Homo sapiens: one gene and its partner. The protein of the gene in region 2 interacts with the protein of the main gene of each other region in a pairwise test. Each region holds a gene or a part of one and is shown on either strand. Other genes may lie near its edges.

Region 1 (8,062 bases), on a different chromosome or scaffold from region 2:
GCAGAAATAACGATGTTCTTTGAAACCAATGAGAACAAAGACACAACGTACCAGAATCTCTGGGACACATTTAAAGTAGTGTGTAGAGGGAAATTTATAGCACTAAATGCCCACAAGAGAAAGCAGGAAAGATCTAAAATCGACACCCTAACATCACAATTAAAAGAACTAGAAAAGCAAGAGCAAACACATTCAAAAGCTAGCAGAAGGCAAGAAATAACTAAAATCAGAGCAGAACTGAAGGAGATAGAGACACAAAAAACCCTTCAAAAAATCAATGAATCCAGGAGCTTATTTTTTGAAAAGATCAACAAAATTGATAGACTGCTGGCAACACTAATAAAGAAGAAAAGAGAGAAGAATCAAATAGATGCAATAAAAAATGATAAAGGGGATATAACCACAGATCCCACAGAAATACAAACTACCATCAGAGAATACTATAAACACCTCTACACAAATAAACTAGAAAATCTAGAAGAAATGGATACATTCCTCGACACATACACCCTCCCAAGGCTAAACCAGGAAGAAGTTGAATCTCTGAATAGTCCAATAACAGACTCTCAAATTGAGGCAATAATTTATAGCTTACCAACCAAAAAAAGTCCAGGACCAGATGGACTCACAGCTGAATTCTACCAGAGATACAAGGAGGAGCTGGTACCATTCCTTCTGAAACTATTCCAATCAATAGAAAAAGAGGGAATCCTCCCTAACTCATTTTATGAGGCCAGCATCATCCTGATACCAAAGCCTGGCAGAGACACAACAAAAAAAGAGAAGTTTAGACCAATATCCTTGATGAACATCGATTGGAAAATCCTCAATAAAATACTGGCAAACTGAATCCAGCAACACATCAAAAACCTTATCCACCATGATCAAGTGGGCTTCATTCCTGGGATGCAAGGCTGGTTCAACATATGCAAATCAATAAACGTAATCCAGCATATAAACACAACCGATGACAAAAAACCACATGATTATCTCAATAGATGCAGAAAAGGCCTTGGACACAATTCCACAGCCCTTCATGCTAAAAACTCTCAATAAATTAGGTATAGATGGGACGTATCTCAAAATAGTAAGAGCTATCTGTGACAAACCCACAGCCAATATCATACTGAATGGGCAAAAACTGGAAGCATTCCCTTTGAAAACTGGCACAAGACAGGGATGCCCTCTCACACCACTCCTATTCAACACAGTGTTGGAAGTTCTGGCCAGGGCAATCAGGCAAGAGAAGGAAATAAATGTTATTCAATTAGGAAAAGGGGAAGTCAAATTGTCCCCGTTTGCAGATGACATGATTGTATATTTAGAAAACCCCATCATCTCAGCCAAAAATCTCCTTAAGCTGATAAGCAACTTCAGCAAAGTCTCAGGATACAAAATCAATGTGCAAAAATCACAAGTATTCTTATACACCAATAACAGACAAACAGAGAGCCAAATCATGAGTGAACTCCCATTCACAATTGCTTCAAAGAGAATAAAATACCTAGGAATCCAACTTACAAGGGATGTGAAGGACCTCTTTAAGGAGAATTACAAAACACTGCTCAACAAAATAAAAGAGGATACAAACAAATGGAAGAACATTCCATGCTCATGGGTAGGAAGAATCAATGTTGTGAAAATGGCCATACTGCCCAAGGTAATTTATAGATTTAGTGCCGTTCCCATCAAGCTACCAGTGACTTTCTTCACAGAATTGGAAAAAAACTACTTTAAAGTTCATATGGAACCAAAAAAGAGCCTGCATTGCCAAGTCAATCCTAAGCAAAAAGAACAAGGCTGGAAGCATCACGCTACCCGACTTCAAACTATACTACAAGGCTACAGTAACCAAAACAGCATGGTACTGGTACCAAAACAGAGATATAGGCAGACCAGTGGAACAGAACAGAGCCCTCAGAAATAATACCACACATCTACAACCATCTGATCTTTGACAAACCTGACAAAAACAAGAAATGGGGAAAGGATTCCCTATTTAATAAATGGTGCTGGGAAAACTGGCTAGCCATATGGAGAAAGCTGAAACTGGATCCCTTCCTTACACCTTATACAAAAATTCATTCAAGATGGATTAAAGACTTCAATGTTAGACCTAAAACCATAAAAACCCTACAAGAAAACCTAGGCAATACAATTCAGGATATAGGCATGGGCAGGGACTTCATGTCTAAAACACCAAAAGCAATGGCAACAAAAGCCAGAATTGACAAATGGGATCTAATTAAACTAAAGAGCTTCTGCACAGCAAAAGAAACTACCATCAGAGTGAACAGGCAACCTACAGAATGGGAGAAAATTTTTGCAATCTACTCATCTGACAAAGGGCTAATATCCAGAATCTATAAAGAACTCAAACATATTTGCATGAAAAAAGCAAACAACCCCATTAACAAGTGGGCGAAAGATATGAACAGACACTTCTCAAAAGAAGACATTTATGCAGCCAAAAGACACATGAAAAAATGCTCGTCATCACTGGCCATCAGAGAAATGTAAATCAAAACCACAATGAGATACCATCTCACACCAGTTAGAATGGCGATCATTAAAAAGTCAGGAAACAACAGGTGCTGGAGAGGATGTGGAGAAATAGGAACACTTTTACACTGTTGGTGGGACTGTAAACTAGTTCAACCATTGTGGAAGTCAGTGTGGTGATTCCTCAGGGATCTAGAACTAGAAATACCATTTGACCCAGCCATCCCATTAGTGGGTATATACCCAAAGGATTATAAATCATGCTGCTATAAAGACACATGCACACGTATGTTTATTGCAGCACTATTCACAATAGCAAAGACTTGGAACCAAGTCAAATGTCCAACAATGATAGACTGGATTAAGAAAATGTGGCACATATACACCATGGAATACTATGCAGCCATAAAAAATGATGAGTTCATGTCCTTTGTAGGGTCATGGATGAAGCTGGAAACCATCATTCTCAGCAAACTATCTCAAGGACCAAAAACCAAACACTGCATGTTCTCACTCTTCTCTCTCATAGGTGGGAATTGAACCATGAGAACACATGGACACAGGAAGGGGAACATCACACACCGGGGCCTGTTGTGGGGTGGGGGGAGGCGGGAGGGATAGCATTAGGAGATATACCTAATGTAAATGACGAGTTAATGGGTGCAGCACACCAACATGGCACATGTATACATATGTAACAAACCTGAATGTTGTGCACATGTACCTTAGAACTTAAAGTATAATTAAAAAAATAAAAAAATAAATTGTGGCGCATCTACCTCAATGAATCCCTATGTAGCCAAAAAAAAAAAAAAAAAAAAAAAAAAGCAAGTACACCCTTTGGGTACTTGTAAAGAAAGATATGTAGGGGACATGGGATGAGGAAGCATATCTAGTGGGATATATATTTTATTTGCTTGTATTTTCATAAAGAAATAATGTAGAATACTAATTAAAGTGGTACCAGTAAGGTAGGTAGGTAAGGGAGCAAAATGTGGTGGATGGAAGCTAGTCTTCACTGGATATTGTTTTACACTCTTTGAATTTTCAACCATATGAGTATACTATCTGTTAAAAACAAACTTTTTAATATAGTAAATTAAACATATTGATGGGCCTCTCTCTATTCCACAGATTTGGCTGGAAACACAGAAATGGAACAATGTCATGTTGATGCTATTGTGGACACTCTGGATGATTTCATGTCATGTTTTCCTTGGGCAGAGAAAAAGCAAGATGTGAAAGTAATGTGATCCATTTGCTATTCCTAGTATTAATTATATACCACCTGCCAGACATTGTGTTAGGTGCCTTAGAAAGTTCCTTAATATCAAAAGAATATGTATAATTTTAAAATACCAAATTATATTTTAAAAGTTTAAAATAAAGTACAGCAATTCCCTATTGTACCCCTTCACATTAACTCCTCCCCAGATGCAACCCTTTTAAAACTTTGTTTAGCAGTTTCTTTAGGATTTACACATTTCCATATTTCTATAGGATAAATAAATATGACTTCCTCTGATTGACCAATTGTAAATGATTTCTCAGGACTTATGATAGTACAGGTTAAGCATTCCTAACCTGAAAGTCTGAAGTCCAAAATGCCCCAAACTCCAAAACGTTTTAAGTACCAAGATAACAGCACAAGTGGAAAATTCCACATGTAAGTACTTAACACAAACTTTAGCAAATGTGCAAAATTATTGAAAATACTGTATAAAATTACCTTTGGCTATGTGTATAAGGTGTAAATGAAACATAAATGAATTTGGTTTTTAGATTTAGGCCCCATCCCCTATATATCTCATTATGTATATGCAAACATTCCAAAATCTGAAAAAGTCTGGAATTCAACACAATTCTGTTCCCAAGCATGTTGGATAAGGGATCTCAACCTGAAATAACAATTTTTCTCTTACATAGTCATCCTTTCTGCTTCCTTTTCACCAAGCTCCCAATATTGTGATGTGAAAATTTTTTGGTTAATTATCCTGTGATTAGTAGGCTATGCAAATAATGCACAGAACTGTGCACTGTAGTATGCTTTTATATTTTCTTTCTCACTTTTCTTCCTTAAAATTAGTAATTGCTTTCTTTTGCTTCTTTTCACTTTTACTGCTGACTTTCCACAGTATCCAATAGCCTGCCAATACGATTTTCCACAAGGTCAACGTAGTGTCAGTTCATCTGTTATTTCCAATATTTCTTGGAGCGCTCTCTAGGAGACTTCCATTCTTTGTGGAGTTCTCCAGGTTTTCTGCACAGCTGTCATCATTGGAATTCCCTTTGCTGTTATTCCAGTGATGCCATTCTATGGAGCTGGAGTCCTGTTCCTGGATGCTGCCTTCTTTCTTTGTTTACTCCATTGTTTATTTGGGGGCACATCCTCTAGTATTCCAAAAGTTAAAATGAAGGCTTGATGACAGCAGATATGATTATGACAGATGGCATGGATATGTCTATCTTGTGAGTCACACTGCTTCGCTCTGGTATGGTTGTCCTAGATACTTGGTCACAGTTGTCATCCTGAGATCTTTATTATTACCCAGGATTTTTTTTTTTTTTTTATGTTTTCCTGGGTTCATTCTCCTGTTTTCTTTCCTTGCTTTTGTGGAACAGTCCTCTAAGAGCTTACTGGTCATAGGAAATAAAAGTTTGGGGCTTTTGGGGCCTTATTTGTTTAAAGATGTTTTTATTTTATTCTCAAACTTGTTTATAGTTTGACTGGGTGTAGAATTCTGATGAAAGTAGTTTTTCATTAGTATTTGAAAGGCTGTTGAGAAGTTTGAATTCAATGTAATTACTGACCTTTTGTATGTGACCTATTTTTTTTCCACTCTGAAAGATTACAAAACACGTGCCCTTAGAGTTCTAAAATTTTGCAATGGTGAGTCTTGGTATGATCTTGTTTTCATCCATTGTGCTGTTTCCTTGGTGATTCCGTTCAATCTGGGACCCATGTCCTTTAGTTCAAGGACATTTCCTTTAATTCTTTCATTAATGATTTCCTCCCCCTTTATTTTCTTTGTTCCATTATAGTAGAATTCCAGTAATTCAGATGTTGGTTGGCTCTTTTCCTATTTCCCGTCTCTTGGCTTTTCTGCATTACTTTTAGAAAGCATTTCTCATCAGTCCTTGAGTTCTAAATTTCTGATATTGTGCTTCTAAATTTATAAAAATTCTTAGGCTGTTTTCCGCTAAGAATGGGGAAGGGACAGCTGTCTAGTAATGTAAAATGAAGAACATCCCATGCTAAAACCGCTTAATAGTTTTCCACCAATCCTCATTTTATCCCCTCCCAAACCTCCTTAACCCCAGTTCTAGACATATCCGGTCATTTCCTGAGCCATTTAAGGATTTTGTGTTGTTGATAGGATTGGTTCTTGGCTTTCCCTTCACAGGTGCCATTCACCCATCTGCTTACTAGCTTCAAATTTTGTTTGCTCTTATCTCCTCTCTTTCCACTTCCTTGTGGGTTCTATCTTTTTAAAAATATTCATTACTGTGGTTTAGAGATGAATGCAAAATGATATATATTTGTCAAATTATTCATCTTTATGCAGAATTCTAAATAGACGTCTTTATTACAGCTTCTAGTGGTTTCCTTTAGGACGCTCATCACAGTCTCTATTTTAAAGAGACTGGCAGGTGGTGTGTGATTACTTGTTTGTTGTTTGTCTCCTCAAGCTGGATGCATCGTGGGGTAGGAATCATGTCTGTATTATTCAACTGATCCCCCACCGCCATCACAGTGCCTTTTACATAGTAGGCATTACACACTTGTTGAATAAGTGATCAGAACCACACTCATCAAATGCACACCATGTGCCTGTGTTACTCTCAGCTCTATGTGTTATCTCAGTCAGCCCTCCTCCCACTTCAAGATAAGTGCTTTTTATTGTCATGCTCACTTTCCAGATGAAGACACTGAGAAACAGAAGTTACAGAGTTGCCCAAAGTCACACAACTGACAGAACTGTGAACTGAGCCCAGACAGCTGAATTTAGATCCCATAGCCTCATCACCTAGGTATACAATTGCTTAAATTAGTAACTAATTTAAGCATTCCTTTAGAATGAAACTGCTGTTATCCTCATCTTCCAAGTAAGAAAACAAGAGTTTCATGTAGTGTAAACAACTTACCCAAAATTGTTCAGCTAGAAGTGGTGCAGAAGGAATTCAAATCGTCACTGACTCAAACCCCAGGTTCTTAACCACTGGGTATAATACCACAGTGCAAGCAGCTGTTCAAAACAGCTGCGCATGAATATTTATGTACATGTTAAAGCTAAAGCCTATAGTCGAAAGCCACAGCACAAATAGCAGGCAGTCTTATCAATTTACTTAAGCACATATTTAAGCACATACTATCTACTTAGTATTTATTGTAAATACTATTTAATTAGCACCTTCTGATTTGAATAGAGATATCCGGACACAAAAGTATTTACATTGACTAACTCCATGATATAAATGTAAGGTGTGTAGGGTCTGCCCACACACACACGTATATATATAGGCCTAGCCAGGAAATAATGAAGCTCAGCTTTGATGATAGAAATACAACTTTTTGACATAAGTACATTTAGGCTCTGGAGTCAAACTGCCAGGTTGAATCCTGATTCCCTTCTTACTAGCTGTCACTTAACTCCCTATTTATAGTTCAAACTCTTTGTAAAGTGGGAATACAACAGGCTCTACTTTGAAGTATGTTGGCAGGATTAAATGTTAGCATATGTGCCTATGGCTAGGTAGGAAGTGTTAAATATTAACTATTATAATTAATAGTGTTATATACTTTGGTGTTAATTGTTTTTACTATTTGTCAGACATGGCATCTGTATTTTACATATCATTATAAATGTAGAAACAGATGCTCTCCAATTTAGAAGTGTCTAAAGATTTTTGTTCCATGTACCAAACACCCCCCTAATGTGCAGTCTATCAATTTATCAGTTTGCTCTTCTCTACTTTTCTATTTTCTACCTTTCTGTGGCTGAGGCTCCATAACAGAGACCACCTCCCAGAGGAAAATATTCTTCGAACATTTATGATAAGAGTAACACTCTACCTTTGTATTAGAATAACAACTCTCTTACATACCACCAATTCCAAAAAAACAATTTCAAAGGACACAGCAATCCAAGTTCATGATTAAATCATACAAAGGCAGAACACGTTGCAGAAACATTGCTGATAGCTATAGACTATCTAATTAACAAGCAGGACTTGGCTAATATATAATGAAAAATGCACTGTTCTGTATTTCATTTCTTAGACTGTTGGTAGTGGGCTACATTGCTGCCATCTTGTGGTCAGGTGAAAATTTCAAAGGCAGAATATTGATGCACTTAAGATGGATAGTGAATATATTCTTGTCATATACACCTTAAAAATCTACCAAATACACACAATTTTACAGTATTTATTACTAAAAATTCCATTTCCAATAAAAAAAGAATTAAAAGCAAAAGATGCCTTTGGATATTGGTCACCATGACAATCCTTGAACTCACCATTAGTGTTACTTTGGTTATTTAATGTATCTGTGTTTCCA
Region 2 (5,640 bases):
GCCAAGCACTGTGCTGAGTGTTTTGTGTCTTAGACTCTATGCCGTGTGCCAAGCACTGTGCAGTGTTTTGTGTCTTAGTCTCTATGCCGTGTGCCAAGCACTGTGCTGAGTGTTTTGCATCTTAGACTGGATCTTCACAACCACCTCACCAAGCTGGTGATCGTACTGTGTGTTTTTCAGATGAGGGGCTAGGGTGCCCAAAGGTTAACTTTCCTTTCCAGAAGTTCAGGGTAGGGAAGTGGTAGCATGAGGCGAGCTGGAGTGACTGTGCAGCTGAGACTCGTCCATGTGATGCAGAGACAAAGTCGGTCAACTCTGGCCATCCAGGTCCCCAGGAATTGACTGGCTTTGTGATAACTGAGCCGACTTCATGGAAAATGGCCTGTGTGCAGTGGTGGGCAAGACCTGGCTCTGGGAGATGGCCACAGCGGCGAGGGGTGGTGGTGTGGGGGCCAAGTGAAGCCATGAGAGAGGGAAGCAGAGAAAACCTCCCCTTCCAGAGGGAGAGCAGAGCACTGATGAAGACCAGCCGGGCCCACCCCCACCTCAGTAGATACCACAGAGCACCCACTGTAGGGTCTCTGGGAGATCCGCTCCCCACGCCCCCCTCCAGTGAGTTAGCAGCGAGCTTGCCAGAGAAAAGATGTGGGCCGCTTATTTTGGAGGTGTGGGGCAGGGGGCAGCAGAGAAGTTTGCACCCTTCTCTGCACCCATCCACAGAAGGGCAGACACCCCAGAGCCTGATGGGGTGGAGGCAGCTGGAATGTGCCAGGGCAGCGGAGGCCCTGCAAGAGCCAGAGAACCAGTCCAGGTCGAAGAAGGGCGCGGGGGGCCTCACTGACTAGAGGATGAGAGTGGTCCCTGACTGGCTCTTGGAGAATGGAATCTGCCCTTCTCGGTGGAGCAGGTAGGCCTTTGAGTGCCTAACAAAACGAAAGAAATCGGCAGCAGAAGTTTCTATCAGGGTCCAAGCCTCTGCATGTGCTGGCTTGTTTGGCTTTATTTTAGAAACCAACCAACATGTTTCATTAGCACTGACACAGCAGGGGTCCCCTGCTGCCACCTGACAATCCAGCGTCACTTACACTGCACCCACGCAGGCCACACCTTCAATGGCCACGGCACGCTAGCCCAGAGTTAGCCACACAGAAACACACTTCTCACCGCACAAAACTCCCTTTTGAAAAAACCAAGCAATCGTCAGGTCGGAGGAGAATCACTAGCCCCCCACAGCGAGAGGGGACAAAGCTTGGTGGCCGAGGCCCAGGTCCTTGTGGCCCCTCCCGGTGGGGTGAAGGTGCCCGGGACTCCTCGGGGTTGCATGGCTACAGCCGGGGCGCTGCCAGGGCCTCCTCTGCGGCTGAGAGATGGAAGGGATCCTTCCCGACGCCCGCAGGTGGGGGCGAGCCACCGGGAACCGGGCCTGTCACCAGCATCCCCGAGCCCCCGCAGACCGGAATGCAAATGGCTCCGCGCCCACGCGGCTCCCGGTCTGCTGACGAGGGCTGCCTGCTCCCATTTCTTCTCTTCCTCTTCATTTTTTTTAAGGGCTGCCAGTTCTGGAAACTTTTTCTGGCTTCTCAGACAACTGTGGCAAGATGGAGTAGAGAGAGGCCCCGGCCGGGCGCTTTCTGCTGCCTCGCGGAGGGGCGGGCACGGGGAGTGAGGGGTCCCCAGGCCCAGCGGGTGCGGGGCCGGGTGAGGAGACGGAGCTCACCCCCGTTCGGAACCCAGAAGCATGGCGGGTCCCCACGCGCAGCCCTTCAGGGGCCTCGGGAGCCCGCGGCCTGGGTCACCTCCGGCTCCCTTCAGGCGGGGGGCGGCTGCTGCCGCCAGGCTCGGGCGTGGGTGCGGGCGGTGGGCATCCCACGGGGGTAGGGGAGGCGAGAGCCTGAGGAGACTCGGGAGGGGGCCCGTGGACGCGGCTGGCCCGGGATGGAGCTGGCGCGGCCACAGTGGGGGACGAGGCAGGGCACGCGGCGTTCCCCGGGCTCGGCCTCCCTCCCAGCGCACGGGCGGTCGGAGGAACTGGAGCCCCCACCCCGGACACGGTCCCGCGGGCGAAGGCTTCTCCCCGTCGCCCCGGTCCGGCCTCCCTCCCGCCGCCGCCAGCAGAGGCCGCTGTCCCACGCGCCGGGTCCCGTTGGCGCCGGGGCCTCCTGGGACGGCCTGGCCGCGGCCTGCGGGTGTAGGCGCCTCGGCGGCCACCGCGTCCCCAGGGGGCCTCGCGGACGGGGGCGCGGGGCTGCGGGGAGGAGGCGGGCGGGCCCCTCGGGCGACACCGCGGGGCGGGCGGCGGGAAGCCCGGACTCAGCGGTTTCCTGGGCAACCGGCCTCCTCCGGCGCGGCCCGCGCGGCTCCAGGTGGCGGGAGGCGGCGGTTGGCGGGAAGGGCCGCGCGGGCCCGGGGGCGGCGCCTCAGGTAGCAGCGCCAGGTGGCGCCCGTGGGCGGCGGGGCTCCCGGGGAGGCGCCTGCTCCCGCCCACGCCGGGCCCGGCCTTCGCGAGCTTCCTTCTGGATTCCAGCGCGAAGCCGCCGCGGAAACTCCCCGGGCGGGCATCGGAGCTCTGGGGCGGGGCGGCCGGGCTCAGAGGGCGGGCGGGAGCAGGCGGGCGGCGAGGGCGGGCAGCAGCAGCGGGAGCAGGGGCGCCCCGGGCGCCGGGGCCGCTGGGGACGAACGCGGCGGGTCAGGCCCCGAAGCCCGGGCCGCGGTGGCCGCCTCAGGCGCCCGCTCTGGGGTGGGGGTGGGGGCATCTTTCGGGACCGAACTCGCCGCAGCCTCCCTCTTTGTGCTCCTTTCCCCTGCTGCCCTTCCAGATGCGCTCTTTCCAGAAAGGCAGCACACGCATGTCTCTGCCGTGGCCCCAGATCCTCCCCGCGCCGCCGTTTTGAGCGTTCACACTCATTACCCAGGTCCGTCTGGGAGACCCGCCGGGCTCCCGCCCTCCCGGCCCGCAGCCTCCTGGCCAAAATCCTCCCGGGACACCCCACCTGGACTGCTGCGAACGGGCCTCCACCCGCCTCCCCGGACCCGCAGCGCCCCCCGCTCCCTCAGGGTTCTGGGGTGAAGGGGTCTGAATAGCACCAGGGGAGGCGGCAGGGCGGGCCTGTCCTACCTGCGCCCGAGCACTGCTGAGACGACATCCCTTCCAGCGCCGCCACGTAGTCCAGCCCCAGCCAGCCGCGGTAGGTGGTTTTCTCTCCGACAGGCACCGCCCGGACGGTGGCATCCTTGAAAAGCAGGTCTTGGCCATGATAGTTGGAGGAGTCGAACATTTTGAACCCGTTCTTATTGTGGTCGTCTCCAAACAGGTCCTGGAAGCACCGCAGGCAGACGACCTGCTCCTCACTGGGCTCAGGCAGGGTCACCCGCCCAGTGCCGCTAGCTGCAAATTGCTTTACATACAGTGACCCAAAGAGCAAGTCATTTCAGGGCCCCACCACTCTGATTGGAAGTCATAAGCTTGACAACTGATTGGCCTCTGTCACCCAAGCGGGTGTGGGGACACTAGGCCCGCAGGTGCCACTGGAAGAGGCGTTCAGAAGCACTGCGGTGCTCCAGCTCCTGGATGCAGGTCTGAGGCCTGAGATGTCCAGGAAGAAAGACCCAGAAATGAGGGATGGTGTGGGTGGGATTCCTGAGCGTTCTGCTAGGCCTGCTGAGCACTTCTTGGCCTTTTCCATAAGGCTTTCTCACTCTGTCTTACAGATATCTCCCCACAAACCTAAACAATTTCGAGAGGGACTTGTGTTCTGCAACCAGTCACAGAATATCAGGTGAGCTGGGCGTGTCTTCACTGACCCACCCGCCCAGGGATGCTGCACTCCTCTCCACCCTGCTCAGAATCACTAGAATGACCGTTCTGTGGCTACAGCCCTAAAAGAGCTACTAAAAAGACCAGAAGTAGTATGAGAACTTATGAATACGAATATAAATAAAGGACATCTGGAGAACATGCATGAATGTCTATGTAAAGTGTTAAGTACTGATCAAGGAGGAACGAAGGAGTCAGGTGGCTCTCAGTCTTTTTGGAGGGACTCGCAGATCCTCCTGAAGATCTGATGAAAGCTGTCAGCCTTCTCCCCAGAAAAATGCACATCCACCCAGGATTCTTCTCCCACATTACTTCAGAGGACTTAGCAACCCCCTAGGGAAGCCCAGGGACCCAGAGTAAAGCACTCCTGGGATAGAGGGGTTCTGTGGGGAAGATGACAGGAAGGAACATGCGTCAGTTCACAATGTCAAAGTTTAGGAACAGGCCTGGCGAGCCAGCCAGCTCTGCAGTTCTGTGGTGCTGGTGGGTGTGGAGAAGGCAATTTCAGCATAAGTCGGGGGAGGGGGAGTGGTTAGAAACCAGTGGCTCCATTGTGAGACAACCTGGGTTTAAATTCTAGGTATATTTTGAAAGCACAACCAATGGGATCTGCTGATAGATTGGCTGTAGAGCACGAGAGGAAGACCGGAGTCAAAAATGACTCCCGAGGAAATGGAAAAGCTAAAGTTGCTCTTAATTGAAGTGGGGAAGACTGAAGGAGGGACGGGGGTCCAACTTTGGACTTGATCCATTTGAGATGACTGTTAGAAACACAAGTCAAAATGTCAAGTATGTAGTTAAATATGCAAGTTTGGGACTGATGTCTGAAGATGTAAATTTAGAAGCCATCTGTATATAGATGGTATTTGATGACATGGGATTGGATGAGATCAAGGGTAAGCTGTAGACAGGGAAGAGGGCTGAGAACTGAATCCTAGGGCTAACAGGTCAGGGAGATGGGGAGGAAATCAGCAGAGAAGACTGAGGAGTGGCCAGAGAGTGAGAGGACAGCCAGGCAGGGCTGAGGACCTGGGCATCTGCAGGGGAAGGTGTTTCCAGGAGGAGGGAGAGCTGTGGCCAGTGCCACTGAGAGGTCAAGTAAAATGAAGACTGAGAAATGGCCACTGGGTTTAGCAACATGGGTCACTGTGACCTTGACAAGAACAGCTTCAGGGCCCTGGTGGGAGCCTGTCTGGGGTAGTCTCCATCCTTAAGAGGGGCCAGAGGAGAGGACTTGCTAACTCAGTCTCCATCCTTAAGAGAGGCCAGAGGAGAGGACTTGTTAACTCCAGAGCAGACCACTCTTTGGAGGAGTTTTGCTTCGAAAGGGAGCAGGATTGGCCGGGCACAGTGGCTCATGCCTGTAATCCCAGCACTTTGGGAGGCCGAGGTGGGCGGATCACGAGGTCAGGAGATCGAGACCATCCTGGCTAACACGGTGAAACCCCTTCTCTACTAAAAAATAGAAAAAATTAGCCAGGCATGGTGGCGGGTGCCTGTAGTCCCAGCTACTCAGGAGGCTGAGGTGGGAGAATGGCGTGAACCCGGGAGGCGGAGCTTGCAGTGAGCCGAGATAGTGCCACTGCACTCCAGCCTGGGGCGACAGAGTAAGACTCCGTCTCAAAAAAAAAAGAAAAAAAGGGAGCAGGATTACAGCTGCAAGAGGATGGATGTGAGACCAAGAGGTTAGTTTGTTCTTTAAGGATGGCAGAAGTCACAGCATGTTTCATGTTGGTGAAAATGGTCCGACTGAGAAGGGAAAATCAACGATGCAGGAGGCAGAGGGGACAGTTTCTGGAGGGATGTCCTTGCGTAAGTGAAAATCA

The links. The genes of interacting proteins can lie anywhere in the genome.
Region 1: the proteins of MELTF (region 2) and HPGDS interact in binary tests that used the Homo sapiens proteins (3 or more experiments, as listed by UniProt).

Annotation. Positions count from the first base shown.
Region 1 is NC_000004.12:94,304,318-94,312,379, reverse strand, and holds part of HPGDS (hematopoietic prostaglandin D synthase), read left to right. Parts: intron 1-3,636; coding exon 3,637-3,746; intron 3,747-8,062. UniProt on the Homo sapiens protein: Bifunctional enzyme which catalyzes both the conversion of PGH2 to PGD2, a prostaglandin involved in smooth muscle contraction/relaxation and a potent inhibitor of platelet aggregation, and the conjugation of glutathione with a wide range of aryl halides and organic isothiocyanates.
Region 2 is NC_000003.12:197,000,786-197,006,425, forward strand, and holds the end of MELTF (melanotransferrin isoform 1 preproprotein), read right to left. Parts: intron 3,960-5,640; exon of another isoform or gene 3,709-3,959; intron 3,575-3,708; exon of another isoform or gene 3,396-3,574; coding exon of another isoform or gene 3,315-3,395; coding exon 3,116-3,314; exon of another isoform or gene 2,817-3,115; intron 2,667-2,816; coding exon 2,587-2,666; 3' UTR 955-2,586; downstream 1-954. UniProt on the Homo sapiens protein: Involved in iron cellular uptake. Seems to be internalized and then recycled back to the cell membrane. Binds a single atom of iron per subunit. Could also bind zinc.